Linked DNA regions of Homo sapiens. The protein of the gene in region 1 binds, or shares a complex with, the protein of each later gene. Each region holds a gene or a part of one and is shown in the gene's direction. Other genes may lie near its edges.

The links.
Region 2: THOC5 (region 1) and THOC2 share a complex: the UniProt entries of both Homo sapiens proteins name them as parts of the transcription/export (TREX) complex.
Region 3: THOC5 (region 1) and SARNP share a complex: the UniProt entries of both Homo sapiens proteins name them as parts of the transcription/export (TREX) complex.
Region 4: THOC5 (region 1) and CHTOP share a complex: the UniProt entries of both Homo sapiens proteins name them as parts of the transcription/export (TREX) complex.

Annotation. Positions count from the first base shown.
Region 1 is NC_000022.11:29,550,750-29,558,617, reverse strand, and holds the start of THOC5 (THO complex subunit 5), read left to right. Parts: upstream 1-4,860; 5' UTR 4,861-4,947; intron 4,948-4,962; exon of another isoform or gene 4,963-5,170; intron 5,171-7,774; exon of another isoform or gene 7,775-7,868. Other genes in the region: NIPSNAP1 (protein NipSnap homolog 1), read left to right, coding at 2,619-2,683. UniProt on the Homo sapiens protein: Component of the THO subcomplex of the TREX complex which is thought to couple mRNA transcription, processing and nuclear export, and which specifically associates with spliced mRNA and not with unspliced pre-mRNA.
Region 2 is NC_000023.11:123,730,039-123,737,418, reverse strand, and holds the start of THOC2 (THO complex subunit 2), read left to right. Parts: upstream 1-4,366; 5' UTR 4,367-4,396; coding exon 4,397-4,467; intron 4,468-7,380. UniProt on the Homo sapiens protein: Component of the THO subcomplex of the TREX complex which is thought to couple mRNA transcription, processing and nuclear export, and which specifically associates with spliced mRNA and not with unspliced pre-mRNA.
Region 3 is NC_000012.12:55,814,722-55,822,388, reverse strand, and holds the start of SARNP (SAP domain-containing ribonucleoprotein), read left to right. Parts: upstream 1-4,664; 5' UTR 4,665-4,687; coding exon 4,688-4,723; intron 4,724-7,667. Other genes in the region: DNAJC14 (dnaJ homolog subfamily C member 14), read left to right, coding at 1-16, 202-412; ORMDL2 (ORM1-like protein 2), read right to left, coding at 1,994-2,129, 2,896-3,047, 3,216-3,389. UniProt on the Homo sapiens protein: Binds both single-stranded and double-stranded DNA with higher affinity for the single-stranded form. Specifically binds to scaffold/matrix attachment region DNA. Also binds single-stranded RNA. Enhances RNA unwinding activity of DDX39A.
Region 4 is NC_000001.11:153,637,049-153,644,067, forward strand, and holds part of CHTOP (chromatin target of PRMT1 protein), read left to right. Parts: intron 1-1,246; coding exon 1,247-1,400; intron 1,401-5,194; coding exon of another isoform or gene 5,195-5,197; coding exon 5,198-5,381; intron 5,382-6,178; coding exon 6,179-6,316; intron 6,317-7,019. UniProt on the Homo sapiens protein: Plays an important role in the ligand-dependent activation of estrogen receptor target genes. May play a role in the silencing of fetal globin genes.

The DNA of each region.
Region 1 (7,868 bases):
GTGACCTTGGGCACGGTTCTTTACCTCGCTGAGGCTGTTCCCTCGTCTGTAAGATAGTGATGGTGATAGTGCTTCTGTCAGAGGGCTATAACGGAAGATTCTACAAACTATTTTATTATTTTATATTTTATTTTATTTTATTTATTTTTGAGACACAGTCTCACTCTGTCACCCAGGGTGGAGTGCAGTGGCATGATCTTGGCTCACTGTAGCCTCCGCCTCCCAGGTTCAAGCCATTCTCCTGCCTCAGCCTCCCGAGTAGCTGGGATTACAGGCGTGTGTCACCATGTCCAGCTAATTTTGTATTTTTAGTAGAGACGGGGTTTTATCATGTTGGCCAAGCTGGTCTCGAACTCCTGACCTCAGGTGATCCGCCTGCCTCGGCCTCCCAAAGTGCTGTGATTACAGGCATGAGCCACCACATCTGGCCCACAAACTCATTTATGAAAAGTGCTTTCTCCAGTGTCTGTCACAAAGGAAGCATGCAGGAAATGTTTTTGAATAAGGTTTTTGTTTTTGTAGAGATGCAGTCTTACTATGTCACCCAGGCAGGTCTCAAACTCCTGGGCTCAAGCAGTCCTCCCACCTCAGCCTTCCAAAGTGCTGGGATCATAGGCATGAGCTACTGTGCCCAGCCTTGAACAAGTTTTTTGCTCAAGGTGTTTGCCACTTTGCTAGGAACCTGAAACCACCTAGAGTCAGTGGGTGTTAATTAAGCCCTCACTGTGTGCCGGGAACTGTGGTAGGTAGGTGGTTGAGGGGCACATAAATGAACAAGAGCCTGTCCTTGCCATTGAGAAGTTTACAGTGATCACTTACCAGGTGGTATGAGGGAGAATGTGTCTGCTGAAGGAGTTAGCAGGAGCCTTGCTATTCAGTGTGGTCCCAGCTGGGTATGGTGGCTCACAACTGAAATCCTAGTACTTTGGGAGGCCAAGGCAAGAGGATCACTTGAGGTCAGTAGTTTAAGACCAGCCTGGGCAACATAGGGAGACCCCATCTCTACAAAACATTTTTTAAAAATTAGCAGGACGTGGTGTTTCCCATCTGTAGTCCCAGCTACTTGGAAGGCTGAGGTGGGAGGATCACTTGATCCCAGGAGTTTGAGGCTGCAGGGAGCCATGATTGTGCCATTGCACTCCAGCCTGGGCAACAGTGAGACCCTATCTCAAAAATAAAAAATAAAAATAATAAAAAACAAGACAAGCACAGTGGCTTACACCTGTAATCCCAGCACTATGAAGTTGAGGTATGTGGATCAATTGAGGCCAGGAGTTGGAGACCAGTCTCGGCAACATGGTGAAACCTCGTCTCTACTAAAAATAAAAAAAATTAGCCAGGCATGGTAACTCAAGCCTGTAATCCCAGCTACTCGGGAGGCTGAGGCACAAGAATCACTTGAACCCAGGAGGCGGAGGTTGCATTGAGCCGAGAACCTGCCACTGCACTCCAGCCTGGAAGACAGAGTGAGACCCTGTCTCAAAAAAAACAAAAAACAAAAAAAATCAAGTGTGGTCCCAACTGACAGTATTGGCATCCCCTGGGAGCTTGTTAAGAATGACAAATCTCGGCTGGGCGCAGTGGCTCACGCCTGTCATCCCAGCACTTTGGGAGGCTGAGGTGGGCAGATCACCTGAGGTCAGGAGTTCAAGACCAGCCTGACCAACATGGAGAAACCCTGTCTCTACTAAAAATACAAAATTAGCCAGGCATAGTGGCACATGCCTGTAATCCCAGCTACTCGGGAGGCTGAGGCAGGAGAATCGCTTGAAACCGGAAGGCAGAGGTTGCAGTGAGCCGAGATAGTGCCATTGCACTCCAGCCTGGGCAACAAGAGTGAAATTCCATCTCAAACAAAGAAACAAACAAGAATAACAAATCGCAGGCTTCCTGCAACCTACCAAATCAGAATCTGCACATTAACAAGAACTGCCAAGTGATTTGTATGCACATTAAAGTTTGAAAAGCTCTGAGCTGGAGGAAAGAGTCTAACCTCCTGGATGACCTGGAGCTGACCTTCTCTAGGCTGCACCCTCTCTATCTGTAAAACGAGGCAGTTGGTCTAAATCAGTGTTTTTCTTTTCTTTTTTTTTGAGACGGAGTTTTGCTCTTGTTGCCCAGGCTGGAGTGCAATGGCCTGATCTCGGCTCACAGCAACCTCTGACTCCCGGGTTCAAGCGATTCTCCTGCCTCAGCCTCCCGAGTAGCTAGGATTACAAGCATGTGCCACTACGCCCGGCTAATTTTGTATTTTTAGTAGAGAGAGGGTTTCTCCATGTTGGTCAGGCTAGTCTCGAACTCCTGACCTCAGGTGATCCGCCTGTCTTGGCCTCTCTAAGTGCTGGGATTATAGGCACAAGCCACCATGCCTGGCCAACAGATAACTATTAAAATTTAAGAAAATGTTATTCTCATCACCACCAAAGTCCTGTCTTATCCCATAATTTGAGGGATCTGGTGCTCTTCATGGGCCCTTCCACGAGGGCAATGGGACATTCCTGTCGCAGCATCTGGGGCCTCCTCCTGCCCACTCAAAGGCCAGCATGTGTGGGTGGGGCCAGGGGAGGTTGTTGGCTTGCTTGAGCCCCCTGTGTGACCTCTGCCTTCTCTCTCCGCAGTCCCCCTGGTGCGACACATGGAGTCTAGGATCATGATCCCCTTGAAGATCTCGCCTCTGCAGTGATGCTGCCTACACCTCCACCTCCTTCCCCTTCTCCCTCAGGCAACCCCGACAGACAGTGGCACTCCTGGTCCTGCTGTCTTGGTTTTGTCTTGGCTCTGGGAGGACTCTGAGGGGCAGTGCTCAGTTCAGACAAGGGGGAACTGAAGGCTGACAAGTTCTGAGGATTACAGCTCTGCCCAGGCCCTTTCTACTTTCCCTGCCTGCCTCCCTCCCCCTGCTAGAAGTAGTTTCTGATTTCCCTGAATGAAAGATAGTGATCTTTTAGGCCTTCATTTATCTTCTAAAATTCCTCATCTCAAGGCCACCAGTCCCCAGTTATCACCCTTGGAAATCCTCTGTTTAGCTTAGTTGCACAAAAGGTAGTATGTCCAGTGGCTAGAGGTGGGGTGGGAAGAGAGGAGGCCAGGCCAGGCCCTCAGGAATTCCCTGGTTTCCACTGGGCCACCCACTTGCTGGACAGTCTGAGCCAAGTCCCTCCTGCTGGAGAAAAGCCTGGAACTGCCAAAACAAAAAAACAAATACAAACAAACCTCGTCACCACGGTCAGGAGGAGGTTCAGACATTCTGCCCAGAGGGGCTGGGGAAAGGGATGGGAGCCAGGAAAGATTTAGGGGCAGGAGACAGACACGTAACAGGAACTCGGAAGGTAGAACTTAGAATTCAGAACTTGGGTTTCAATTGTAGAATTTGGAATCTGGAATACAGAATTGGGAAGAAGAACAGAGATGACAAAAGACCACTTGAAGAGAGGTTCCTAATACTAGACAGATGGAGAGTGGCTTGGCTGTTTCCCCCTGCATATTGGGGTTGAAAACTTAAATGTGTAGTTCCAGTCCTTCTATGCAGAGTCTCTCCTGCCCTCCCTCCTTCCTGCAGGCAAATATACAAGCTAGACCCTGTTCCCTCACCCTGTATCCTGTCTCCCCTAATTGACATTCTATCAGCCCAACCCTCATTCTGCAGGGCCACCTGGTGTGTGGAGGTGGCGGGAGGGGTCAGTGACTCTGGGGGTCTCCTCAGTGACCCCCATACCTCATCATGAACCCTTGGGTAGCTTGATTCTGCCTACCATCCAGGAAAACTTGTGCTGGAATTGCTGATGGAAACAATTAAATATTTACTATAAATCAGTGTCTTTTCTTCATCTGCAAGGAACTTTAGCAGGTGCCTGAGGCAGGGCACAGTAGAGCTGGTGGGCTTAGTCCCACATGGCAGATCTACCCTCCTGGAGGGTACTGTGTTCTTGAGCTATTCTCAACAGTCAGTACTGGTTGGGTGCAGTGGCTCACGCCTGTAATCCCAGCATTTTGGAAGTCCGAGGTGGGCAGATCACTTGAGTGAGGTCAGGAGTTCAAGACCAGCCTGGGCAACATGGTGAAACCCTGTCTCTACTAAAAATACAAAAATTAGCTGGGCATGGTGGTGCATGCCTGTAATCCCAGCTACTTAGGAGGCTGAGGCAGGAGAATCCTTTAAACCCTGGAGTCGGAGTTTGCAGTGAGCGGGGATTGCGCCACTGCACTTCAGCCTGGGTGAGAGAGCAAAACTCTGTCTCAAATAAAAATAAAAATAAAAAAGAGCCAGTATTTTCCTCCTTGCTCCTGGGAAGGAGAAGGAACTGGCCCCGTACAACCAGGGATTCAGGACACGTGTTACTAGCTCCAGATGAGGATTTACACGAAAAAATCCTGGGCCTTGTTTGTACAGTTCATGCCAGGGGTAGGAAATACCTGAAGCTTTCAAATACTGCGTTAGAGTTGTGACTCTGTCCTGGGCAAGTCAGGCCTAAAATGGAGAAACTGGTGATGCACTCCTCAAAAAGCCAAGTGTAAAATGAGGTTAATGCCCTCCCTGACTTGTTGCCTTCACTGGCGTGGCATATTATGGTAAAAATAATAATTAAGAAGTAAGGTTATGCAGGCAAATCCTCTAGCGCCGAAATCTTCCCCGCCGCGCTACCAGGTTCTTTCGTGTTATCTTGGACATAACACAACATTAATTCAACTACTCGGTGGAGCGCCCACTAGCTGCTGGACACTCTCTTAGGCCCTGGGCACAGTGAACGAGAAGCATGTGTCTTTGTTTTTACAGTCTCACCACGCCACCACCTCCCTCGGGGGCCTCCGCGCTGAGCTTCCGGCCTCTACGCCTCGCTTCCGGTCGGCCGCCCCTTCCTTACTTCCGGTTCTCTATGGTGCGCGGGCAAGCTTTGCTCCGCCTCCGGCAGTGGCTTACTCCCGGTGCCAGGTTCTTGGAGCTGTGAGGTGAGGAGGGGACAAGGGCAGTGGGGCTGGGAGATGGGGCGGGGCTGGGCGCTCCGGGACTGAGGTGCTGATCGCCCAAAGGGCGCCCCTGGGCTGGGGTCTGACCCGGCTTCTCCTCCCTCACTACCCGCGGTCCCCGGCCTCTCGGCGCTGCGCTGTTACCTCATCCGAAAAGTGTTCGCTGCAGCATCCTCAGGCTTCACGTTGGAGCCTCTTGATTGTGGTAATGTAGCCTGATGGGGGTGGGGGTGGTGGTGATGGTAACAGCTCACATATATCGTGCTCTTCGGTGTGCCAGGCACTCTACTGTGTTGCCAAAGTCAGGATTTCCCACACTTAAGCCTTTCAGGTCCGGTCTTTGTAGGCTTTGCCAGATCAACTTACCACCTCTACTACCGTTTATTAAAAATTTGTTTGTTTGTTTGTTTTAGTATTTATTGATAATTCTTGGGTGTTTCTCGCAGAGGGGATTTGGCAGGGTCATAGGACAATAGTGGAGGGAAGGTCAGCAGATAAACAAGTGAACAAAGGTCTCTGGTTTTCCTAGGCAGAGGACCCTGCAGCCTTCCGCAGTGTTTGTGTCCCTGGGTACTTGAGATTAGGGAGTGGTGATGACTCTTAAGGAGCATGCTGCCTTCAAGCTTCTGTTTAACAAAGCACATCTTGCCCCGCCCTTAATCCATTTAACCCTGAGTGGACACAGCACATGTTTCAGAGAGCACGGGGTTGGGGGTAAGGCTATAGACCAACAGCATCCCAAGGCAGAAGAATTTCTCTCAGTACAGAACAAAATGGAGTCTCCCTTGTCCACCTCTCTCCACACAGACACAGCAACAATCCGATTTCTCTATCTTTTCCCCACATTTCCCCCCTCTCTACTAGACAAAACCGCCATCGTCATCATGGCCCGTTCTCAATGAGCTGTTGGGTACACCTCCCAGACGGGGTGGCGGCCAGGCAGAGGGGCTCCTCACCTCCCAGAAGGGGCGGCCGGGCAGAGGCGCCCCCCACCTCCCGGACGGGGTGGCGGCCAGGCGGAGGCGCCCCCCTACCCCCGACCCGACGGGGCGGCTGGCCGGGCTGGGGCTGGCCCCCACCTCCCCCCCGGACGGGGCGGCTGGCCGGGCGGGGGCTGCCCCCCACCTCCCGGACGGGGCGGCTGCTGGGTGGAGGGGCTCCTCACCTCTCAGACGGGGCAGCCGGGCAGAGACGCTCCTCACCTCCCAGACGGGGTCGCAGCCGGGCAGAGGTGCTCCTCACATCCCAGACGGGGCGGCGGGGCAGAGGTGCTCCCCACATCTGAGATGATGGGCGGCCGGGCAGAGACACTCCTCACTTCCTAGACGGGATGGGGTCCGGGAAGAGGTGCTCCTCACTTCCCAGACTGGGCAGCCGGGCAGAGGGGCTCCTCACATCCCAGATGATGGGCAGCCGGGCAGAGACGCTCCTCACTTCCCAGACGGGGTGGCGGCCGGGCAGAGGCTGCAATCTTGGCACTTTGGGAGGCCAAGGCAGGCGGCTGGGAGGTGGAGGTTGTAGCGAGCCGAGATCACGCCACTGCACTCCAGCCTGGGCACCATTGAGCACTGAGTGAACGAGACTCCGTCTGCAATCCTGGCACCTCGGGAGGCCGAGGCTGGCCGATCACTCGCGGTCAGGAGCTGGAGACCAGCCTGGCCAACACAGCGAAACCCCGTCTCCACCAAAAAATACGAAAACCAGTCAGGCGTGGCGGCGCGCGCCTGCAATTGCAGGCACTCGGCAGGCTGAGGCAGGAGAATCAGGCAGAGAGGTTCCAGTGAGCCGAGATGGCCGCAGTACAGTCCAGCTTCGGCTCGGCATCAGAGGGAGACCGTGGAGAGAGGGGGAGGGGGGAGGGGGAGGGGTTTACTAAAAATTTTTAATCCAGTCCAAATTTTTTTTTTGCAACGGGATCTCTGTTGTCAAGACTGAGTGCAGTGGCGCGATCATAGCTCACTGCAGCCTGGAACTTCTGGGCTCAAGCCATCCTCCCACCCTAGCCTCCAGAGTAGCTTGGGACCACAGGTGTGCACCGCCATACTAGGCTAATTTTAAAATGTTTTCTAAAGATGGGGTCTCGCTCTGTTGCCCACTCTGGTCTTGAACGCCTGGGCTCAAGCGATTCTCTCACCTCTGCTTGCCTTGGTTTCCCAAAGTGTTGGGATTACAGGTGTGAGCCATGGTGTTGGGCCCAGTCACTTTTTTTGTTGTTGTTGAGACTGAATCTCGCTCTGTTGCCCAGGCTGGAGTGAAGTGGCTGCGATCTCGGCTCATTGCAACCTCTGCTCCCTGGGTTCAAGTGATTCTCCTACCTCAGCCTCCTGAGTAGCTGAGATTACAGGCGCCCGCCTCCACTCCCGGCTAATTTTTGTATTTGTGGTACTGACGGGGTTTCACCATGTTGGCCAGGCTGGTCTCAAACTCCTGACCTCAGGTGATCCACCCGCCTCAGCCTCCCAAAGTGCTGGGATTACAGGCCTGAGCCACTGCGCCCAGCCAAGTCACTTTTTAAACTCAAATTTACTTTGAGAGAAAACTTGAAATCTCTCCACCAGAAATGGAAAGCTGCTTTCACTTGTTTTATGTAGAAGGTAAAAATTAATATAGTTAATATAATGCAACTAGATCATTGTTAACAAACTCTGGCTAGATTTTGTTGTTTAAGGCTGTGGGATAGAGTTCTTTTGTTACAAAGGAACATTGGCATTCATAGATGTTAAAGACAAACTAGGGAACTGAGATGTTCTCCTTGAAGCAATCAGAAGTTTCAAAATAAGAATTGAAAAGGGATTAACTTTCTCCTTAGGTGTTCAGCATTATTTAAGATCACCTATGCATCATCTGAAGCCACAGTCCCAGGTCATCTTCATCACCTTCCCCAGTGGAATGCCTCCTGTGTT
Region 2 (7,380 bases), on another chromosome or scaffold:
CGAGGTGGGCAGATCGTTTTAGCTCAGGAGTTTGAGACCAGTCTGGGCTGCCTCTACAAAAAATACAAAAATTAGCCGGGTGTGGTGGTGAGTGCCTTTAGTCCCAGCTGTTTGGGAGGCTGAAGTGGGAGGAAAAAGAAAAAGAAAAAGAAAAAGAAAAAGAAAAAGAAAAAGAAAAAGAAAAAGAAAAAGAAAAGATCTTGTTTTTACCAAAGGAGCACTGTAGACAGGAAGGAGACAAGTAGATTGGTTTGGCATAAACAGCCTTAGCATAAAATGCAGAAGTTATCAAGTAGCTTATTCTAAAGAACTTTTCTTCATTTTAAATCTCAAAAAACCCTTTGCATTCATTCTTTAATTATTTTGTTATTTTGTCTTGTTTTGCTTTTATGTGCTTCCTTTTTGGTCCCATTATTTGTCTTCACTGAGATGGTAAGTTATAAGATTGCTTGACCTTACAGTAACCTAAAATCAACCTATCATTCCATGCATCAGACTGTCAACATTGAAACTACCCAATCCCTGGCCTCCACCACAGACCTCAGTCCCTGAATAGCACATTGGTATCCATGAGCTTGTGAGATCACCAGGGAAAAATCCCCCCAGCTGCTGAGATAATACCAGATGCTGATAGCAAAGAGCAGGCAAGCCAACAACAAGGATGCAGAAGATTTAATAGCTTTGCAATCTTATAGATCAAAAAGCCAATTAGCTCTGAGTAATTCCTAAAGGAGTCATCATACCATGTAAAAATAGTTCTGCAGTTTCTGGAAGAAGGGAAAACCAGGCCTCAAAGGGCATCATTGCACTCAGGTCATACCACAAGTGTGACATACTGATTACTATGCATACTGCACAGTTCAATGTTTGGAAGAAGAAATCACTGTGATACGTGGCAAGGTAAGCCACAGTACAGGAGAATACTGTAGCTCAGTGGTTCTCAAAAGGGGACTGTTTTGCCCTCCAGGAGACATTTAGCAATGTCTGGAAACGGTTGTAATAACTGGTGTGGGTGTGTGTGTGTGTGTGTGTGTGTGTGTGTGTATGGGGGCTGCTACTGACATCTAGTGAGTCAAGGCCAGAGATGTTGCTAAACATTCTACAATGCAGAGGACCCCTGCCCCCTGGCCCCCATCCCCCCTATCCCCACAAAAAATTATCTGACCCAGGTTGAAAGTCCTTGCTGTAGACTACACAGAGAAGTATACATAAGTAGCAAGATAGTGCTTCTTGTATCACAGAAGCCGTCTTGTAATAATGACTTCAAAGTTTTCCAGGAAGGATGATGGTACATGAAGATTCACTGTATCATTCTGTTTGCTTTGTATACATTTTAAATTGTCCATAATAAGGAAACATGAAAAGATTAGAGGGCACTTCTATATTTGATCCTCCTCAAAACGGCAGAAGGTTTTTACAAGCAGAAATCACTGAAGTTAATAGGTGGATATTTTCTAGTGGGTGGCTTTAGAATTTCAAAGTGAGACAGGACACTAGAAGACTAGATACAGCTGGTGAAAAACAATCATAAACAATGGAGCATTTTCCCAGAACCAGTTCTGAATACAGCACATAACTTAAATAGTTTTTCAATGCAAATGAACCTGGTTCATTTGACAAAACTTGCCATATTTAGAAGATACTAGCTCTAAAGTTCATATGTGGGGTAGGATTTCTTCATTTGGATTGTCTGTATTTTCTGCCAAACGTGTGTTTTTTTTTTTTTTAATTTTTTTATTATACTTTAAGTTATAGGGTACACGTGCACAACGTGCAGGTTTGTTACATATGTATACATGGGCCATGTTGGTGTGTTGCACCCATTAACTCGTCATTTACATTAGGTATATATCCTAATGCTATCGCCCCCCACCCCACAACAGACCCCGGTGTGTGATGTTCCCCTTCCTGTGTCCAAGTGTTCTCATTGTTCAATTCCCACCTATGAATGAGAACATGAGGTGTTTGGTTTTTTGTCCTTGTGATAGTTTGCTGAGAATGATGGTTTCCAGCTTCATCCATGTCCCTACAGAGGACATGAACTCATCATTTTTTATGGCTGCATAGTATTCCATGGTGTATATGTGCCACATTTTCTTTCTTTCTTTTTTTTTTTTTTTCTGTCAAGTCTGCTTTATTTAAGTCAATATTAGACCTGCTGTTCCTAAACAGAAATGCCCTGATGACAGAGGAGTGGGAGGGAAGCAGGCTCATGTGAGGGTGTGGGAAGGCCACTTGGCCCAAAATGTTTGCAAGAAATACACCAGGAAAAGCCTATTTTAATTCTCCTGCATTAGGAACTGCCCTGTGAGATTCCTGCAAAATAATCCTCCAGGCTCAGGACTATTCCTCTTCTCTTGTGCTAGACACATCTCTCTTCTGGAAAGTTTTCCTTCCTTTTTTTTTTTTTTTTTTCTGTTGACTTTTTTTTTTTTTTTTATTGATCATTCTTGGGTGTTTCTCGCAGAGGGGGATTTGGCAGGGTCATAGGACAATAGTGGAGGGAAGGTCAGCAGATAAACAAGTGAACAAAGATCTCTGGTTTTCCTAGGCAGAGGACCCTGCGGCCTTCTGCAGTGTTTGTGTCCCTGGGTACTTGAGACTAGGGAGTGGTAATGACTCTTAACGAGCCTGCCGCCTTCAAGCATCTGTTTAACAAAGCCCATCTTGCACCGCCCTTAATCCATTTAACCCTGAGTGGACACAGCACATGTTTCAGAGAGCGCAGGGTTGGGGGTAAGGTCATAGATCAACAGGATCCCAAGGCAGAAGAATTTTTCTTAGTACAGAACAAAATGAAAAGTCTCCCATGTCTACCTCTTTCTACACAGACACAGCAACCATCCGATTTCTCAATCTTTTCCCCACCTTTCCCCCTTTTCTATTCCACAAAACCGCCATTGTCATCATGGCCCGTTCTCAATGAGCTGTTGGGTACACCTCCCAGACCGGGTGGTGGCCGGGCAGAGGGGCTCCTCACTTCCCAGTAGCGGCGGCCGGGCAGAGGCGCCCGTCACCTCCCGGACGGGGCGGCCGGCCGGGCGGGGGGCCGACCCCCCCACCTCCCTCCCGGACGGGGCGGCCGGCCGGGCGGAGACGCTCTTCACCTCTCAGACGGGGCGGCTGCCGGGCGGAGGGTCTCCTCACTTCTCAGACGGGGCGGCCGGGCAGAGACGCTCTTCACCTCCCAGACGGGGTCGCGGCCGGGCAGAGGCGCTCCTCACATCCCAGACGGGGCGGCGGGGCAGAGGCACTCCCCACATCTCAGACGATGGGCGGCCAGGCAGAGACGCTCCTCACTTCATCCCAGACGATGGGCAGCCGGGCAGAGACGCTCCTCACTTCCTAGACAGGATGGCGGCCGGGCAGAGACGCTCCTCACTTTCCAGACTGGGCAGCCAGGCAGAGGGGCTCCTCACATCCCAGACGATGGGCGGCCAGGCAGAGAGGCTCCTCACTTCCCAGACGGGGTGGCGGCCGGGCAAAGGCTGCAATCTCGGCACTTTGGGAGGCCAAGGCAGGCGGCTGGGAGGTGGAGGTTGCAGCGAGCCGAGATCACGCCACTGCACCCCAGCCTGGGCACCATTGAGCACTGAGTGAACGAGACTCCGTCTGCAATCCCGGCACCTCGGGAGGCCGAGGCTGGCGGATCACTCGCGGTTAGGAGCTGGAGACCAGCCCGGCCAACACAGCGAAACCCCGTCTCCACCAAAAAAATACGAAAAACAGTCAGGCGTGGCGGCGCGCACCTGCAATCGCAGGCACTCGGCAGGCTGAGGCAGGAGAATCAGGCAGGGAGGTTGCAGTGAGCCGAGATGGCAGTACAGTCCAGCTTTGGCTCGGCATCAGAGGGAGACTGTGGAAAGAGAGGGAGAGGGAGACCGTGGGGAGAGGGAGACGGGAGAGGGAGACGGGAGAGGGAGAGGGAGAAGGAGAGGGACCCGATTATTTTCTTTTATCTCAGCAGTCAGCAGGGCGTAATGTAATTTATTTGCTTATATTTATGGCTTTCCCAAAGACTATTATTTCTCTATTCCCAGTGTCTAGCACATATTAGGTGCTTGAAAAATGCGTGTTTGTATTAGTGGTTAGGGGTAGATATTACGGAAGAAGATGAAGTCTACTTGTTGGCCTGTGGATGGCATTTCTCTGTTCTAATGGGAAGTAAGGCCGAAGACTTCGGAGGGCGCAACCCGTGTAGTAACCTCGCAAAGGGGCCCGCGAGTCTCCACGTCGTTGGCTGCCTTGCCTCGGGTTTCCGCTGGGTGGAGAGGAAAGTGGGGCGGGAAATCGAAAAACGAACTCTCAGCTCCCGGCATTCCTCGTGGGCGGTGCTCCCCTTTGACCCTTCGCTCGCGTGCTACACATCCGGGCTTCTGCTACTAGTGAGAGGAAGATGGCGGCCGCGGCTGTGGTGGTTCCCGCAGAGTGGATAAAGAACTGGGAGAAATCAGGGAGAGGCGAATTGTGAGTGTTCGGGCCGGAGGCAGGCGCACTGCCGGGCCGGGCCAGGGCGTCAGCTGCACTCTCACCTGTAGTGGGAGGTTGAGGGGGAAAGATGTACCCCCTCCCCCACCCGGGCGGCGGGCGTGGATGGTCGTCTAGGAGTTTCGAACTCGGGGAGAGGTGCTGTTTACCGCCGCGGACCTCCTTCCTTCCCTGGCCTCCCAGAAATCGCTACTGCCTGCGGTAGCTCGGCTTCCTTTAGCCTCTTAGTAGAACTCTTATTCCGCCCCTGCAGGTCTCCGCGCTCCCTCTTGGTCTCTTTTTGTGTCCCCCTCTTCGCTTGATCTCACTTGGCTCCTTTATCTTTATGGGGCTGAGCCGGGGCAATTCGGACTTTCCATCTCTCTCTGTGCCATTTCTTCACTCTGCACCCGTTGGACTCCGCAGTTTGGAGCTTGGCGCCTCCTCTGCCTGAAGTCCAAGGAGGGCGAACCGTCCCGGATTCCCCTCCCCTCCTCTTCGCCCGCTGCCGCGAAGCCCGGGGCGCCGCGAAGAACCCGGTTTGGCACCTCTCGCCCTCCCGGGGAGCGGTCTCTCGACTGTCCCGGCCTCGCGTAGCGCCGTGGGGAAGTGTGGCAGGGATTGCCGCTTTCCCTGAAGAACCACCGACATTTCTTTGCTCCGTCTTTTCACCTTAGAGCTATTTCGGGTTGGATTCAACTTTCGTCATTAAATGTTCCCTAAACCCCATTTTATCCTGGGACTGCAACTAATTCTGGCAGCTCTCCAAGCTTCTCCAGTACCTAGGATAACGCGTTTCCTTTAGTCGTGAAACTTTCCCCCGTAACACCGAAAACAGTAATTTGCCATACCCCTAGTCTTCTCGCCCCCACGTTAGAGCGCTCCCTCCTCCCCTTCCCCTGGAAGGAGTCGTTTAAGCAGCAAAGCAAACCTCAGATATAAGAACAAATATTAATAACATCTCATTTCCTTCTCTGGGTCGCTTTTAGATGCTAAAGCTCAACCCTGGATGAAATTAACCCTCGTTAGCCATTTTTGTCGTCCTTGCCCACCCCTCTCCATTTCTAGTAGCCAGTTTACCGTGGCTCATGCTAAAGATTCAAATCTTTGTAACTTCGTTACTTGGAACGAAACACGAGGAACGCGTTGCCGGATCCCGCGCTTGTAATAGTGCCAGCCTATGTGGCTTCCTCCCCCGCACCCCCCGCACTGCTGTATGAAGTCTTAACAGTGTGAGCTCTAGAATTCCCTAAATAAGCGGCTGTCTTAGCCACTTAAGTAGCTGAGTGACCTTGGGTAAGTTCCTTAACCACTTGGACTGTTTCCCCTTGAGTAAATTGGGAATAATAAGTACTCTACTCAAAGGATTGTTGTGAAGACTAAATAATGCCTGTAAAGCACTTGGCTTATAGTAAGTGCTCAAGTGATAGCTATTAAAAGTAATATTATTCCAACCTTTAGATATTTAAACTTCTCAGGACAGCTCATGCACTTAAAGTCTGTACCACTCAGGTTAGCAATTAATTGGTCTCTGACTTATTCATGTGTGTTTATTCTTGCACTGTAATGAATTGGGAGGCCTTTGAAATATAGGGACTATGTCTCATATTTCTTTTGGTTTAACACATGCCCCGCCCCCCCAGCCTATGCTTAGAATGCTTATTGGTTTATTAATTGTCAGAGAAGGCTATTTGATAAATCTTCGTTTTTAACTATAATGAACATTTTACAAATCCTCGTATGTGCTAGTTAACAAATAGCTGTCAAGTTTGATAGCTAGTTGACAAATAGCCATCAAGTTTGGGGAAGGCAAGATGGGAAGTTACCCAGCCAGACCATCATCTTCATCGATATTAGGGTAATCCCCCAAAACTGATAAAAGCAGTTCATTGTTTTGTTTACTTTCAAAGCCAGCTCATTTATTTAGGGGCTGTTATGTTTGTAGATTGCTCAGCTTCCTCCTTTCAGCTACTGTTTTTTGACAGTTTTACTTTTTTTTTTCCCCCTTGAGACGGAGTCTCGCTCTGTCGCCCAGGCTGGAGTGCAGTGGCGCGATCTCGGCTCACCGTAACCTCCGCCTCCCACGTTCAAGCGATTCTCCTGTCTCAGCCTCCTGAGTAGCTGGGACTACAGGCGCGTGCTACCACGCCCGGCTAATTTTTTGTATTTTTACTAGACACGGAGTTTCACCGTGTTATCCAGGATGGTCTCCATCTCCTGACCTGGTGATCCGCCCACCTCGGCCTCCCAACAGTTTTACTATTATTGCTGCCACCTTAGCATGAGTGGTATTAGGGCTATAAGGTGAAATTCTGCTTGGCTTCTGACTGGTAATGGTTTGAGAAAAAGTGATGTAGGAGATCGAAATACTTAGATAAAATGGAATTTTAGGTTCACATTATGTATATTTACATAATACATGCTATCTGTCATAGTTCTTATGTTTGAAGAGCTGCTTAAAAACTGTTATTAGAAGCCGAGCGTGGTGGCTCACGCCTGTAATCCCAGCAAATTGGGAGGCCGAGGCGGGTGGATCACCTGAGGTCAGGAGTTCCAGACAAGCCTGACCAACATGGAGAAACCCCATCTCTACTAAAAGTACAAAATTTGCCGAGCGTGGTGGCACATGCCTGTAATCCCAGCTACTCAGGAGGCTGAGGCGGGAGAATCGCTTGAATCTGGGAGGCGGAAGTTGCGGTGAGCGGAGATCGCGCTGTTGCACTCCAGCATGGGTAACAAGAGCGAAACTCTTTAAAAAAAAAAAAAAAACAAAAACCCAAACAAAAACAAACCAAAAACAACAGCAAAAAAACCTGTTATTAGAACTTACGTGTATGTAGTTATTGCATGACTTGTGGAATGTGGATTGAATTATAGTAGATCCAAATCAGTATAGTCAGTTTTATGATTGCA
Region 3 (7,667 bases), on another chromosome or scaffold:
CCAGAGGGCGGCAGAGGTAGGTGGTATTTCTGTCAATAATCTATCCACTATTTCAGTTTTGAATACGGTTTCAGATGACCTGCTTTTTAGGACACCCAGGGGCCTTGTTTTCTAGGAAGTTTGGGAACTGATAAGTATATCTAACTTAGGTAACCATATGACTCTAACATCTCTTGCCTTATTTCTTCTGTTTTACCTCAGAGCCACCCCAGATGCCCCTCCTGCTGATCTTCAGGATTTCTTGAGTCGGATCTTTCAAGTACCCCCAGGGCAGATGCCCAATGGGAACTTCTTTGCAGCTCCTCAGCCTGCCCCTGGAGCCGCTGCAGCCTCTAAGCCCAACAGCACAGTACCCAAGGGAGAAGCCAAACCTAAGCGGCGGAAGAAAGTGAGGAGGCCCTTCCAACGTTGATGCCCCTTCTCTTTCCTCAAATCAATGTCAGGGAGTCAAAAGGGCTGTAGCACAGGATGGAGTTTGATTTATCCCTCCTCCCCCAACACCTAGGAACTGAATCTTTTTCTTTTTATTTTTTGAGATGGAGTCTTGCTCTGTTGCCCAGCTGGAGTGCAGTGGTGTGATCTCAGCTTACTGCAACCTCTGTCTCCCGGGTTCAAGCAATTCTCCCATCTCAGCCTCCTGAGTAGCTGGGATTACAGGCACACACCACCACACCTGGCCCAGCTAATTCTTTTTTGTATTTTTAGTAGAGACGGGGTTTCACCATGTTGCCCAGGCTGGTCTCGAACTCCTGAGCTCAGGTGATCCACCCGTCTTGGCCTCCCAAAGTGCTGGATTACAGGCATAAGCCACTGTGCCCGGCCTGAATCTTGTCTTTTGACAATACCAAAGAAATAGGGGGTAGCTAGAGTAAAGAACCTAGGGCCTGGACCTGGGCTGGACAGTGTATCCCTTTAGGTGTGGGAACTGGGTATTTCCCTGGGGTCTGTATGCCTTTGTCTTGTCATTTGCTTTTAGGGCAGATGACACTTTTTCCCACCCTTTTAAAGCTACAAGTCTATCTTCTTTCTTGACCCATTTCAGGAGGGAGCCCTCTCCTTTATCCTGATATAATATTTAAAAGAGAACAAGAAAGCATGTAGCCCTAATGATAGGAGATTATCGCATAGAGTTCAGAGACTGGAAACTGAATTTTCCCTCGACTTTCACTTTGTGGGTAAATCACCCAATTTTAGGCTCTTTTCTGCAAGGATGGCCAAAATTAATCATTTTTAAAAAGTAGATTCATGCCCACTGCCCTTGGGTGAGGGGGAAGAATACGGGGGTTCCCAGAAGCCCCCATGTGATCCAAGGGTTTGTATTTTTTTTTTAAGTTTGTTCATATTTGTATGTACATGACTATTTAAAGCCAGGGGATTATCTTTCTATAAATGTATAACTGGCAACCTGTATCTTCCCTCTTTGTTGCCCATATAGCCGGAGCCCTTTTTCTCATTTGAGAATCTCTTCCCTACTAAGTGTTAAGCTTAGAGTGAAGGGCACCTCCTACTGGACCAAAGGAGAGGGGATTGGAGAATTGTTTTAAGTTTTATACATTAGGTCAGTATTCCATCTTCCCACCCCCAGCCTTATGAGGACAGCTCTCTACCCATCCTGATTAAACTGCAGCTATAGCTGAAAAAAATTATTGTAAGAAAAATACACAGCAAAACAGAGCTGGAAGGTGGTAAGTGTAAAAGATATGGAAAGATGTAATCACCAAAGAAGCTGCCCAAATGGCTTCCTGCTATGGAGGAGAGTGATTTGGCCCTTACCTCACCTGCCTTCCTGATTCAAAGAAACTTGCCACTAGCAGGACTGGGCCCAGGAGCCCCATTTGCCAATCTCTTCTCTTCTTGGGAGTCTGGGAAAGGTTGTATAGTTCTCAGGCTTTAAAGGTGTAGAAGACAGTATGGAGAATAAGAGAAGGATGTTTTATAGTCCTCTGTTTCAGTGCCTTCCCCATGCCCATGGAGCTGTCCCAAAACCCATCCCTCAGTATTTGTTGATGCCAAAGACACGAACCCCATGGAACTGGGGCAACTTCGGCAGCAGTACACTTAGCAATGAGGCTGTGTTGATGAGGAAGTGCGCAGCATCATACTTGGTATAGAAGCTGGCCAGGAGATAGCTGGGGAGAGAAAAAAATAGGGTGAGTGAGGTTGACCTTCTCTATCCATATTCTTTTTTTTTTTTAAGAGACAGTTCTCACCATGTTTCCCAGGTTGGAGTGCAGTGGCTATTCATAAGTGTGATACGTGCAGTACAACCTCAAACTCCTGGGCTCAAACAATCCTTCTGCCATAGCCTCCCAAGTAGCTGGGACTCCAGGCATGCACCACAGTGCCCTGCTCTTTCTCTTCTATTTTAAATGACCAGTTTTACTGTATATAGTTCTAGATTATCTAAAACTATTCCAGCTATATCAACAGCATTTACTTTGGGGTTCAGGAGATAGCACCCTTAACTGGAGACTGTAAGTCAGTATCTGTTAATTGTTAATGACATGGCAAATGACGGCTCAAGCTATTTCAGTCTGTATGACTGTTACAGTCCTCTTTGCTTCCACTCCCTACAGTGTTTTTGAAGATTAATATCAGTTCTGCCTTTATTTACTTCTTTTGGCAGTGTAAAATCATTTGGTTTTATTTGGCACTTATCTTTTCTCAGTCCCTTCATTTCCTTACTACCAAGGAGGCAGCAAGGAATGCTTGATTACAGTATTGACTGTAATCTACATTTTACTGCTCTCTGTAGGCTTAGAACTAGTATACCATAATATCTTCAAAGGGTTTTAGATGAGAAGTCTGCTTTTTAACAGCTTCCCTATGGGCCTTTCTACCTGGCTCTTGGAGCTCTTTCTAACCCAGCATATCTCATTTCCCCCATAGACTCACAGCACAATAGGAGAGATGCTGAGGAACTTGCGGGAAGAGGTAAACTGGAGCCCATAGTCCATTTGCTCCCAGTGTGTCAGTAGCCGAGCCTTTCCTTGGTCAGGAGTCTCAAAGGGTGTCCCTTTCACCGTATGAAGGAAGACATACGTAGCCTGGGAACAGGGAAGGTGGCAGTGTGAGGGGCAGAAAGTAGTTTTTCAGTCAAAGAATTATGTTAAGATCCCAAAAGGAACACATAAATCCCCAAACAATTGGTGATTTTATTTTGCTTTTGGTTGGGAAACCCTGGGGTGGGTACAAGGGCGTGGTTTAGTGCTCACCAGGTTATGGATGACGTTGGTCAGGGTCCAGACAACAGGAATGCTGAAGAAGGGGATGCTGAGTAGAACCATATGCAGCAATCCTACCAAGATGATGTAGGCCAGCCAGATGCCTCGGCTATTCATCACTCGGGTGTTGGGGTTTACTTCGCTGTGTGCCACCCCCACATTCATCCTAGCCGTAATGGGGGATCAGGCAGGAGTCCAGCTCAGTTTTTTCTCAACCCCTCTTGAGCTATCTCCCAGTTGTCTCTCAGATAGCCCCAATCCCCTGAACTCTATTGGGAATGAAGAACTTACCCATCACGCAGAAAATAAAAACTGAAGACTTGGGGAAAACTTTAAAAGACAAGAAGAGTCCTCACTACATTTCAGAGACATAGTCATTATTGCTCTGATCTTTACACGTCAACTGTAACATGAAGGTGTATGTGTAGGCTTGGGGCACTCACTTCAGGGAGCAAGGGAAATAGGAGTATCTGACTTTGCTGAAGAAGTTAATAACCATGAAGAGGTCACGTACACCCAGAATTCCAGGCGAAAGTCATGGAATCATCAAAGAACCACTAAGAAGGGATGACAGAGTAAAGCTCACTCTGGTCCCCACTTTGTTCTCTGGGGCTTGTCCACCCTCTCTCTCACCTCCGTGGCATGTAAACAGTCTGCATCCCCATTACTTCTCTCAAGCGTGGGGCACGACAACAACTTGCCCACGGCTTCTGGACTGGGTTAGGAAGGGACCTGAGCTCAATACCTCGAAAGGTGGAGCCTTGGCTCTGACTCCAGGGGCAGCAGTGATTATCTGAACTCGGATCTTTAAAATTGTGGTAGCTCTAAAGCTGATGATGTCTGGTTAGGAAGCGGCTCTTGCCCGCCCCAGCCCCACCGCCAGTTCCTTAAGCCCGCCCCATGCCCCTCCCAGCTTCCTCCTCATGTTCATCGGTTTTTTCAGGGCTCCCTTCAGCGCTCCCCTCTCAGTATTTAGGTCACCACTCCCTCGGCGCCCCTTTCGCCTCCCACCATTTTTCCTCAGCAACCCTTACAGTCTTTGCAGCTCCTACCTGCCAGCTCAGATCCCCGTCCGGCTATGGGCGCGGCGCCGGCTACCACACCTGAAGTCTCCAGGAAGTAACGCCTCTCCTTCTGCCCCTTTCCTATTGGAGGAACAGAATCAGCGCTGCCACCACCCATTGGTTGGTGGTCTGTAATGCAGAAGCACAGTTGGTTGCCATTTCTGTCGTTCGCAAGATACAGTGCCCGCCCCTCTCCCAGTTCCACCTTTTGAAAGAGGTGGGGCAAGCTGCCTAGAGAAGTGAGAGCGACGTCAGCTATTGACCAATGGGAAGAGCTGATGGTATGGCGTGGGAGCAAGAGTGACAACGATTGGTCAGCCTTGCATCTCTACGCCTAAGGCGGGAGCTCCTGGAGGCGGAGGCCGCGGGTGGGGGCCTAGTGGAGTGAGGGGTAACAAGATGGCGACCGAGACGGTGGAGCTCCATAAGCTAAAGGTACCGTGAATCGGGGAAGGGCTGAGTTGGACTTTTCTAGGAACTGAATTCTACAGGGTAGCTTGCGCCTTCTCCTACGTCTTCTCCGTGCAGCCTTTTCCACTTCGTTTCTCGGCTCCCGCCGTAGCTCTTTTGTGCCACCCTTCCACACTACGCCTTCCCTAATTTCCCATTTCTCCTCACGGCTTTACTGCTATATTTATTTGTTATTTCTGCTTCCTTCATCATTGTATCGTCCGTCACCCTTCCCCACTGGGTTGTGTAAGTGCCTTCTACCTGTTATACTCTTCGTTGCTTTTCAGGGCTGCATTACGTCAGTTGGTCCCTCCTTTTTGCCCCATGTCGGAGCCAGGATCCGTTTTTCTTCCCTGGGATGATGTTTCCAGTCTGTCGTCCGAAGCTGAGATTTCCCTGTTAGCAAATGGTGGCATTTTTGTGTATTTCTGTCTAAATAGGTACCAGACACTCAGAAAATACTTCCACTCCCCTTTTCTAGGTGGGATTACGCCCCAAGCCGAATTTTGAAACAGGGAGAGGCCTCTCAGAAGATCGGTCTCGCCTTAGAAGCCTGGGGTTGAGGAGGTCTTGAGAATAGTAGAAGTACAGACACCTCAGATTTAAAAGTTTTCGAGTTCTGTCACGCGGCTCTCGGCCCGCCAGCCTTCCTCACACACCATCTCCAACCACCAGAGAGAACTCACACCTGCAATATTTGGGAAAAACAATTCCAAGGTTAAGATTATCTCTGTTCCATTTCATATCTCGGGTGGGCCCTGCATCTCCTGGTGTTACCATTGGCTGACACTGAATCACAGAAGCTATTTTAAATTGTCTTATGAGACTCTTGGTAGTTTTTTCACACTTAGATATATAAAAAAGTTAAAAAAATATATTAAAAAGAAGAACATTTTAAAAAGTATTTTCTTTTAGGGTAAATTAAGATATCTTGAGTAATTGTCTGTTTGTGGTTTCACAAGTAGTTTTCCCATTAGATGTTTTGGACAAACCAGGCTGATATAGCTGAAACTGAAAAGTGATCCTTTAAAGCTCGAAAAGTTTTTTTTTGTTTTTGTTGCTGTTAAGAAAGCTTAAGGGTAGTAAGGGTAGGGAGAGGACCCTTCTTTAGTCACTTATTAGTTGACCCCAATTAGTCTTTCTGTGAAACTGATGTTTTTCTTACTCTTGGATTCTAAACTCTGTTAGTGGGTTTTTGTGTTATTCTGGAGTTATTGTTAACTTGATGATACTGAAATGCATAGACTATATCAGCGGTCTCTTGATCTTTATTGTGATGAGTTAAAAAAAATTGAGCAATCATCTCCACTTTGTTTATATATACTGTACTTATAGAAATTGTATACTTCTGGACTGTTATAAAATATAACACAGAAAAGGAATTTTTGAATGAGATAAAAAGGAACTATATATAGAAGAGCTAATATTTTCTTCCTATTTGTCCTATTTTTGAAATCCCTGGAGTAAGTCACCAGCTGCCCGATGACTTACTTGCATTTATAGATTGTGTTGGTTTATGGAGTTCCTCCTTCCATCAAATCTGTATTTGTCAGGTCTATATAAAATTTGTATTTGATTGGATAAGTAACTTTTACGTAAAGTCCTCTGACCTGATTTCAGTGTTACAGTCTAAGAGAACATTAGGCACTCCTGACAGCCTAAAAAGGACTTGCTCTTTAATCACATTTGCTTGTCTTTGCTTTTTCTCTAGAGCACTTCTTAACCTTTTGGAGGTCACAGATATCTTTGAAACTCTGATGAAAGGTATGGACCCTCTCCCCAGAAAAAGGCATGTACACATATTTTGCATGCAGTTTGAGGGGCTTCATAAAACTACCTTGTAGCCCCGAGGAGTCCATGGACCTCTGGTTAAGAACTCATGCCTTTAGCTGGGCGTGGTGGCTCACGTCTGTAATCCTAGCACTTTGGGAGGCCTAGGCGGGCGGATTGCTTGAGGCCAGGAGTTCGAGACCAGCCTGGGCAACATGGCGAAACCCCGCCTCTACCAAAAATGCAAAAATTAGCCAGGTGTGGTGGCAAGTGCCTGTAGTCCCAGCTATTGAGGAGGCTGTGAGGAGGCTGAGGCACAAGAATCGCTTGAGCCCGGGTTGGAGGTTGCAGTGAGCCGAGATGGTGTACTGCACTCCAGCCTGGGGGACAGTGAGACTCCGTCTCAAAAAGAAAAAAAGAACTCATGCCTTTGATTCTGATTTTTAGGACAATTAATGTTTGGTTCCACTGGTGATCTTGATGCAATGATCCTGACTTCTGGGTTGACTTGGGGTTTTATTGCCTTAAAAAAAAATCTTGGCTGGGTGCAGTGACCCACACCTGTAATCCCAACTCTTTGGGAGGCGGAGGCCAGGAGTTTGAGACCAGCTTAGGTAACATAGTGAGACCCTGTCTCTACAAAAAAAATTAAAAAATTAGCTGGGCATGGTGGCACACACCTGTAGTCCCAGCTCCTCAGGAGGCTGAAGTGGGAGGATTGCTTGAGCCTGGGAGGCCAAGGCTGTGGTCAGCTGTGTGATAATTGCTCCACTGCACTTCAGCCTGGGTGACAAAGGGAGACCTTGTCTCAAAAAAAAGAAAATAAAAAAATCTCTCCATTGTCATAAAGAGAATTTTGGGCTTTGGTATGGAACCTCAGGGGAAGGGAATACCTTTTGAAGCAGGAAGGAAACATAGTATGTATCTGAGTTGATATGTAATGTCATATCAACAGCAAATTTCTGAGGATTTTGTAGAAATGCAGTCATTCTTTTTTTTTTTTTTTTAAATTGAGATGGAGTCTCGCTCTGTCGCCCAGGTTGGAGTGCAGTGGCAAGATCTCGGCTCGCTGCAACCTCCGCCTTCCAGGTTCAAGCAATTCCCGTGCCTCAGCTTCCCGAGTAGCTGGGATTACAGGCACGTGCCACCATGCCTGGCT
Region 4 (7,019 bases), on another chromosome or scaffold:
ATGTCCAAAGGCCCTTGAATGTCATTCTTGGGCCTTGTAAGAGGCACTCGCTTTGCTCCATTTCACTTTCTTTCCATTCTGCTTTTAGTTTGGTTTTGTTTTGGATTCTTCTACAGTTAAGTGTTCTTCTCTTCCATTCCATTATACTTCCTTGACAGAAATAATGAGTCTCTTCACAGGCTCATAAATGATCAAACTGATGTAACTTTGAAAAGTAACTACTTGGAGTCAGAAAAAGTGATGATTGGAGACTAAGAAAAGTAAAGATATTCAAAGGCAGTTTCTATCTCTGACAACTTTGTTCATTAAGAGTGCCTTTGTTTAGGCGCGGTGGCTCATGCCTGTAATCCCAGCACTTTGGCAGGCTGAGGCGGGCGGATCACGAGGTCAGGAGTTTGAGATCAGCCTGCCCAACATGGTGAAACCCTGTCTCTACTAAAAATAGAAAAATTAGCTGGGCGTGGTGGCGTGTGCCTATAATCCCAGCTACTCAGGAGGCTGAGGTAGGAGAATCACTTGAACCCGTGAGGCGAAGGTTGCAGTGAGCCAAGATCCTGCCACTGCACTCCAGCCAGGGCAACAGAGGACAGAGTGAGGCTCCGTTTCAAAAAAAAGAATGCCTTTGATCAGTGATTTCATTAAGTTGACTTTCGACCACTGAAATTTACTTAATGTCTATTTTTGCCTCTTCTGAGGCATATGTGCTTCTCTCCTTATCTCTTTGGCTATGATAAGCTAATTATTTATGTTTGCATAATATTTATGTTTGCATGTTAGTGACATATATTTTAAAATGTGATACACTCCTGTAATTTATGAGAGTATGTTCATTGCTGTGAGCTTTGAAGGTGCTCTAATCCTTCCTCATATTTGGCCTTAGAATGCACCTCGGATCCCCCAAGGTTTAGGCTTTCTTCATTTGTCTTTGAAACTATATCTTCTGTCTCTTGTCATATCTGCTTATTGCGTGTTTTTCATACCTTCCACCTCTCTAAAAGCCGTTACCTGAGCCCTCGTTATCACTTTTGGTTGAATGTGCTGCACTTAGCTGCATTTCTAAGTTTCTGATTCTTGCAAGTTTGTGGAAACAGAGGAGTCTTTAACCCACATCAGCCTTGATCTAAGTGTACCACTTTACTTAAAAGTTCGTGGGATCTGGAGCTCCTGGTCTAGCAAGCCATGAAAATGCCAATAAATGTTTGTAATAAAGCTTTTATTTAAACATCCATTTTGTTCGACCTTGAAGCTTTACTAATATGCTGAAGAACAAACAGCCGACGCCAGTGAATATTCGGGCTTCGATGCAGCAACAACAGCAGCTAGCCAGTGCCAGAAACAGAAGACTGGCCCAGCAGATGGAGAATAGACCCTCTGTCCAGGCAGCATTAAAACTTAAGCAGGTGAGAGAATGGGTCTTAATGCTCCAGAAGCAGCTGGTGATCTCTGTGAGGGAGTCCACTGAGGCTGTCAGGACGTGATGGATGATTGCAAAGTGGCTCAGGGCAAAAAGCTGAAACTTCTCTGGAAGAAAGAGAAGTTCAGAGAATTCCAATTTTGGCAGGTACCAATAAGTAACTTTTTACTGTCTTTCTCTTTTAGGGAGTTTGCCATCTATGTGGCCTGTTTCTGTTACCAATGAGTATTAATCTTTTGTTTTCTGATCCTTAACCCTTAACATAGATTAATGGCTTATTCCACAAAGAAACTTTATTTCAGCTTTAGATAATCTCACAGCATCCTTTACTCTCTGTTAAATGATTTACCCAACAGGGAAATAATTTTATTCTTTTTCCCATAGTGCAGGGAGTTTGCATGGCCTTAGTCAAAGGTTTTCTTTTTTTTTTTTTTTTTAGACGGAGTCTTGCTCTGTCGCCCAGGCTGGAGTGCAGTGGCACGATCTCGGCTCACTGCAAGCTCCGCCTCCCGGGTCCATACCATTCTCCTGCCTCAGCCTCCCGAACAGCTGGGACTAAAGGTGCCCGCCACCACACCCAGCTAATTTTTTTGTATATTTAATAGAGACAGGGTTTCACCATACTAGCCAGGATGGTCTCGATCTCCTGACCTCGTGATCCACCCGCCTCGGCCTCCCAAAGTGCTGGGATTACAGGCTTGAGCCACCGCGCCCAGCAGTCAAAGGTTTTCAATGCTAAAATATACAGAGTAGAGTGACCCTCATTTCCACAGCACCTAAAGTTTTACCAGTAAAGTGGAGCAAGAATACTGAGTAATTTGAGTTAGGGGTTCTCTTTTTCAAATTTACAGTGAGAGATAATCCTATTCAGACCTGAAATAAAACCTGCTCTTTATTATTCATAGAATTTATATGCAAGTCCGGACAGTGGCTGTGGAAGGATATGTCCAAGCTGTGGCTGGGCGTCTGGAGGGCAGTGCCATGCAACTGTAAGGGCTTTGGTAGCATTGCATGGCTATGCATAAATTCAGCAGTTAAATATAACACCCTTACACCCCCACCCTGAACCATTGGGCTCACTGACCAAAAATAAACAAGGGTGTCTGCTTCGGCTACCTTAAGCCTTGGAGTGACTGGATTCCTCCCTGACTCAGGAAAGCAGCAAAAGGCACCATTTTCCAAGAGTAAATGGAAGTTGCTGAAGATGAATCTCTGACAGATCATTCCAAAGGACCTTTCAACAAGAAGCTTTAAGTATAGGCTCTGCAGGAAGTAGTCCCTATCCAGAGTAGTACTATTAAATAGAATTTTTTTATGTTTTTGGTTTGGTTTGGTTTGGTTTGTTTTGAGACGGAGTCTTGCTCTGTCACCCAGGCTGTAGTGCAGTGGTGCAATCTCAACTCACTGCAGCCTCCGCCTCCCGGGTTCAAGCGATTCTCCTGTCTCAGCTACAGGCGCCCGCCACCACACCCGGCTAATTTTTGTATTTTTAGTAGAGACGGAGTTTTGTCATGTTGGCCAGACTGGTCTTGAACTCCTGACCTCAAGTGATCTGCCTGCCTCAGTATCCCAAAGTGTTCAGATTACAGGCATGAGCTACCGTGCCCAGCCAGAACTTTCTACAATGATGGAAATGTTCTGTATTTGCTCTCCGGTACAGTAGCCACTAGTCACATGTGGCTATTGAAAACTTTAAATGTGACTAGTGCAATTAAGGAGCTTAATTTTTTTTAATTTAATTTTAGGCCAGGCCTGTAATCCCAGCACTCTGGGAGGCCAAGGCAGGCGGATCACTTGAGGTCAGGAGTTTGAGACTAGCCTGGCCAATGTGGCAAAACCCCATCTCTACTAAAAAAAAAAAAAAGCCGGGCATGGTGGCGCATACCTGTAATCCCAGCTACTCAAGAGGCTAAGGAGAATCTCTTGAACCCAGGAAGTGGAGGTTGCGGTGAGTGGAGTTGGCACCACTGCATTCCAGCTTGGGTGACAGTGAGACTCTGTCTCAAGAAAATAAGTAAAATTTGCTTTTAATTTAGGCTGGGTATGGTGGCTCACACTTGTAATCCCAGCACTTTGGGAGGCCTGGGCAGGTGGATCACCTGAGGTCAGGAGTTCAAGACCAGCCTGGCCAACATGACAAGACCCCGTCTCCACCAAAAATAAGCCAGGCGTGATGACAGCTCCTGTAATCCCAGCTACTCGGGAGGCTGAGGCAGGAGAATTGTTTGAACCTGGGAGACGAAGGTTGCAGTGAGCCAAGATCGTGTCACTGCACTTCAGCCTGGGCAACAGAGCGAGACTGTATCTCAAAATAAAAATAATTGAAATAGCCACATGTAGCTATAGAGGCTGCCTTACACAGCACACCTCTAGAAGGGAAACTAAGTGGTATAGTTGACATCCTTAACTTCCCTGTTAATATTAAAGGCCGGTATTGGTGGCACTTAAGGATTGGAATGGGTAAAGAACTTCCCAGCACTGTACAGTTCTTTTAAAGCACAAAGCTTGGGAGAATTAATATATGCAGGATAACTGAACGCAAGAGACTTGTGGAATGCAGTTCTAACCTGATAATTGTGTGTTAATCGGGAGTAACAGGACAGGCCGTTACGGTTGGTTACACCTACTTATGCTAGATGCATAATGTTTGGAGCCTTCCCCACTGATGAGAAGCAATTTATGATCTTGTGCTAGAAAGTTAATAATGCTTCACAGCATCTTTTTGAGAGGTTGATTAGAAAACACACACATACACGTTGGTAGTCACTTGTGGGTGAAGCCTGAAGGGGCTATACAATTTATTTTCTTTCAGATTGACTGATGGCTTTATGGACAGCCAGGCTTACTAGGAGCTTGGTTGTGTTCAGGGCTATTGCTGTCCCTTTTTCCTTTGAAGGAATTTAATTCTCTGAGATGTAGTCTTAATGGTTTTCTTTTGAGAACAGATTCTTAAAAATACCCTATCTCTGTAGTGTGTCCTTGTTCTTATATATGGCCCTGAGTTTTGTGATCACCTGAATAATTCTAACATACGTTTGGCTGGCTGACTGTGGAGATACATTTGAGTTACATGTTTATTTTTAATTTAAGGTCATCATTGTTTTAAAGGAGCTGTTTGCAAGTGCAGGCATGGAATTAGGGATTTTTAAGAAATGTAAGGAAAGGAGATTTGACTTTCTTGTGTTTATTTACATCTTAAGGTAAAAAGTGGACCGTCTGGAAATAGATTCTCAGAGGAAAAATGGAGCACACGGGCCTTTTTGAGAAATCAATCTTGTTCTTAAGTCACAAGAACTCAAGTGAACTTGTAATTTAAGTTTTGCCCAGAGTGTGATGAACTTCCTATGGTGTTTGAGTAAGCCTTTGAAGACAGTGGTAGTCCATGGGCAGGTATGAATCAAGTCATATAATTGTCAACCTGTAGTTCAAAAGCAGTACAATCCAGGATTGAACTATAGAATGTTCTTACGAAAACTTAAGTTTCAACTGGCAGTGTATGACTTCTGTAGCCAAACTAGTGAGGTAATTTGTGGAGATGCCCATTTCATGGGACCACACTTGAGCTTCTTGGAGTTTCTGCTCTGGATCAAAATTCTGCTGCTTGTATAACATGTTCTGAGGCAAAGGCTTGCTTCTGGTTTGGGATCCTTTTGACACCCACAACAGGTTTATCTCCCTTCACACCAGCATCTCACTTGCTTCTTTTTCTCTGCACTTTGAGTTGCCAAATCCTGTTGGATTGCTTTTTTGATCTCAATCCCCTAACACCTTTTCTTCCAGAAGAGCTTAAAGCAGCGCCTGGGTAAGAGTAACATCCAGGCACGGTTAGGCCGACCCATAGGGGCCCTGGCCAGGGGAGCAATCGGAGGACGAGGCCTACCCATAATCCAGAGAGGCTTGCCCAGAGGAGGACTACGTGGGGGACGTGCCACCAGAACCCTACTTAGGGGCGGGATGTCACTCCGAGGTCAGTGCTGTGTACCCTGATAATTGTCGGGCCCTACTCCCTTCCCTTTTCTCTTGGGCTGCTTATGGACACGTTTGTTTAACATCTTTAAGCCTGAATTTGTATTAATATAATAACTTCTGAAATCACATATTTTTAATAGTGCTGCATGTCTTTTATCAATACCATTCCTTTTCTGATAATGTGCAATGGTGAGAGGCTATGACCTGCGTAACAACAGGTAATTCATGTCATCTCCATTCCATTTTAAAACACCCTGCTGTTGCTTGAATCAAAGCACATTCAAGTTCTAGAAACAAGTCAAACATAAGAAATTTATAGGTCTTTTGGCCTATATCTCTTTGTTCCTGGTGCTAGTAAAACACTGATACAGCTGGAAAAAGAGGACAAGTTGACCCACAGCACTTACCTATATATGTTCATTTGGGGCACTATTACTCTGTTCCCTGTATAGTTCTTGTTCCCTAGAAGAATCTGTTGAGATCAGGAACCATAGCATTTATTTTTAAATTTACCATAATGCTAGGCATCTATCTGATTATTCAGTAGATATTTATTAAATGTATGTACTTACTAATTGAATTAACTCCCAACTTCCAAAAATGGATTTGTGGTCAGACTTGTTGAATTGATTGAATAAAGAGTAGCTTAATCTGTTCACAGTATGCAGCTTGCCCCAGCCAACCTAAAAACTAACTGAATTACCTTCATTTAACCCTCACCGCCTTCCTTTGGTTAGAATCTACTTTGTGTCTCTTGGATTTACCTGCATATACATTGTATGCCTCCTCTCTAAGGTCAAAACCTGCTCCGAGGTGGACGAGCCGTAGCTCCCCGAATGGGCTTAAGAAGAGGTGGTGTTCGAGGTCGTGGAGGTCCTGGGAGAGGGGGCCTAGGGCGTGGAGCTATGGGTCGTGGCGGAATCGGTGGTAGAGGTTAGTCAGCTACCAACTTCAGAGAGTAGCTCCCCCTTACTTTCCTCCCTTAAAAACTCAGAGCCACCTTTCTGCACAGCTTCAAGTCATAGGCAGGCTTCTTTGTTTGTCTTGTTTTGTTATTTGAAACTGGCTTATTTTTCAAATTACCATGCTGGTAGTGCAAAAGTCTCATGATTTTTCCAAGAATCAATCAAGTGCATATTATAGAGCCAGATTATATGCCATCTTCCTCCAAGCTCTTGCAAATTTAAATTGTATAGTTGAAAATACCCCCCAAAATGGTCAGTTTAGGGTTTTGCCTTTCTCTGCCCCTGTCCCACCACCATCACCACCACATACCACCCTGTAGCTCCAAATCCTGGTTTGAGTCACATGAGAATATAGAAGAGAGAGAGAGATACAAAGATGAAGTAGAGTTAAGAGGGTGGTGAGACTTGGAGCTGGGCATTGGCTCTGAAACCAAATAAATTCAATGTCACATTTGGTGCCTGTGGAGAACCAGAGATGACTTTTTTTGCTTAAGGTAGAGAGCAAGATGGAATTATTATCAGTTAACTAACTGGCTCTTATTGATAATCTTGCCTTTGAAATTTATTGATGTTTGTCTTGTGACCTCATGACCCAGATTGGGAAAGAGTTTAATGATGTTGCTGCTGTTAATACTAAATCTCATGGGAGCCTTCTGGTTTAGAGCTTAGTG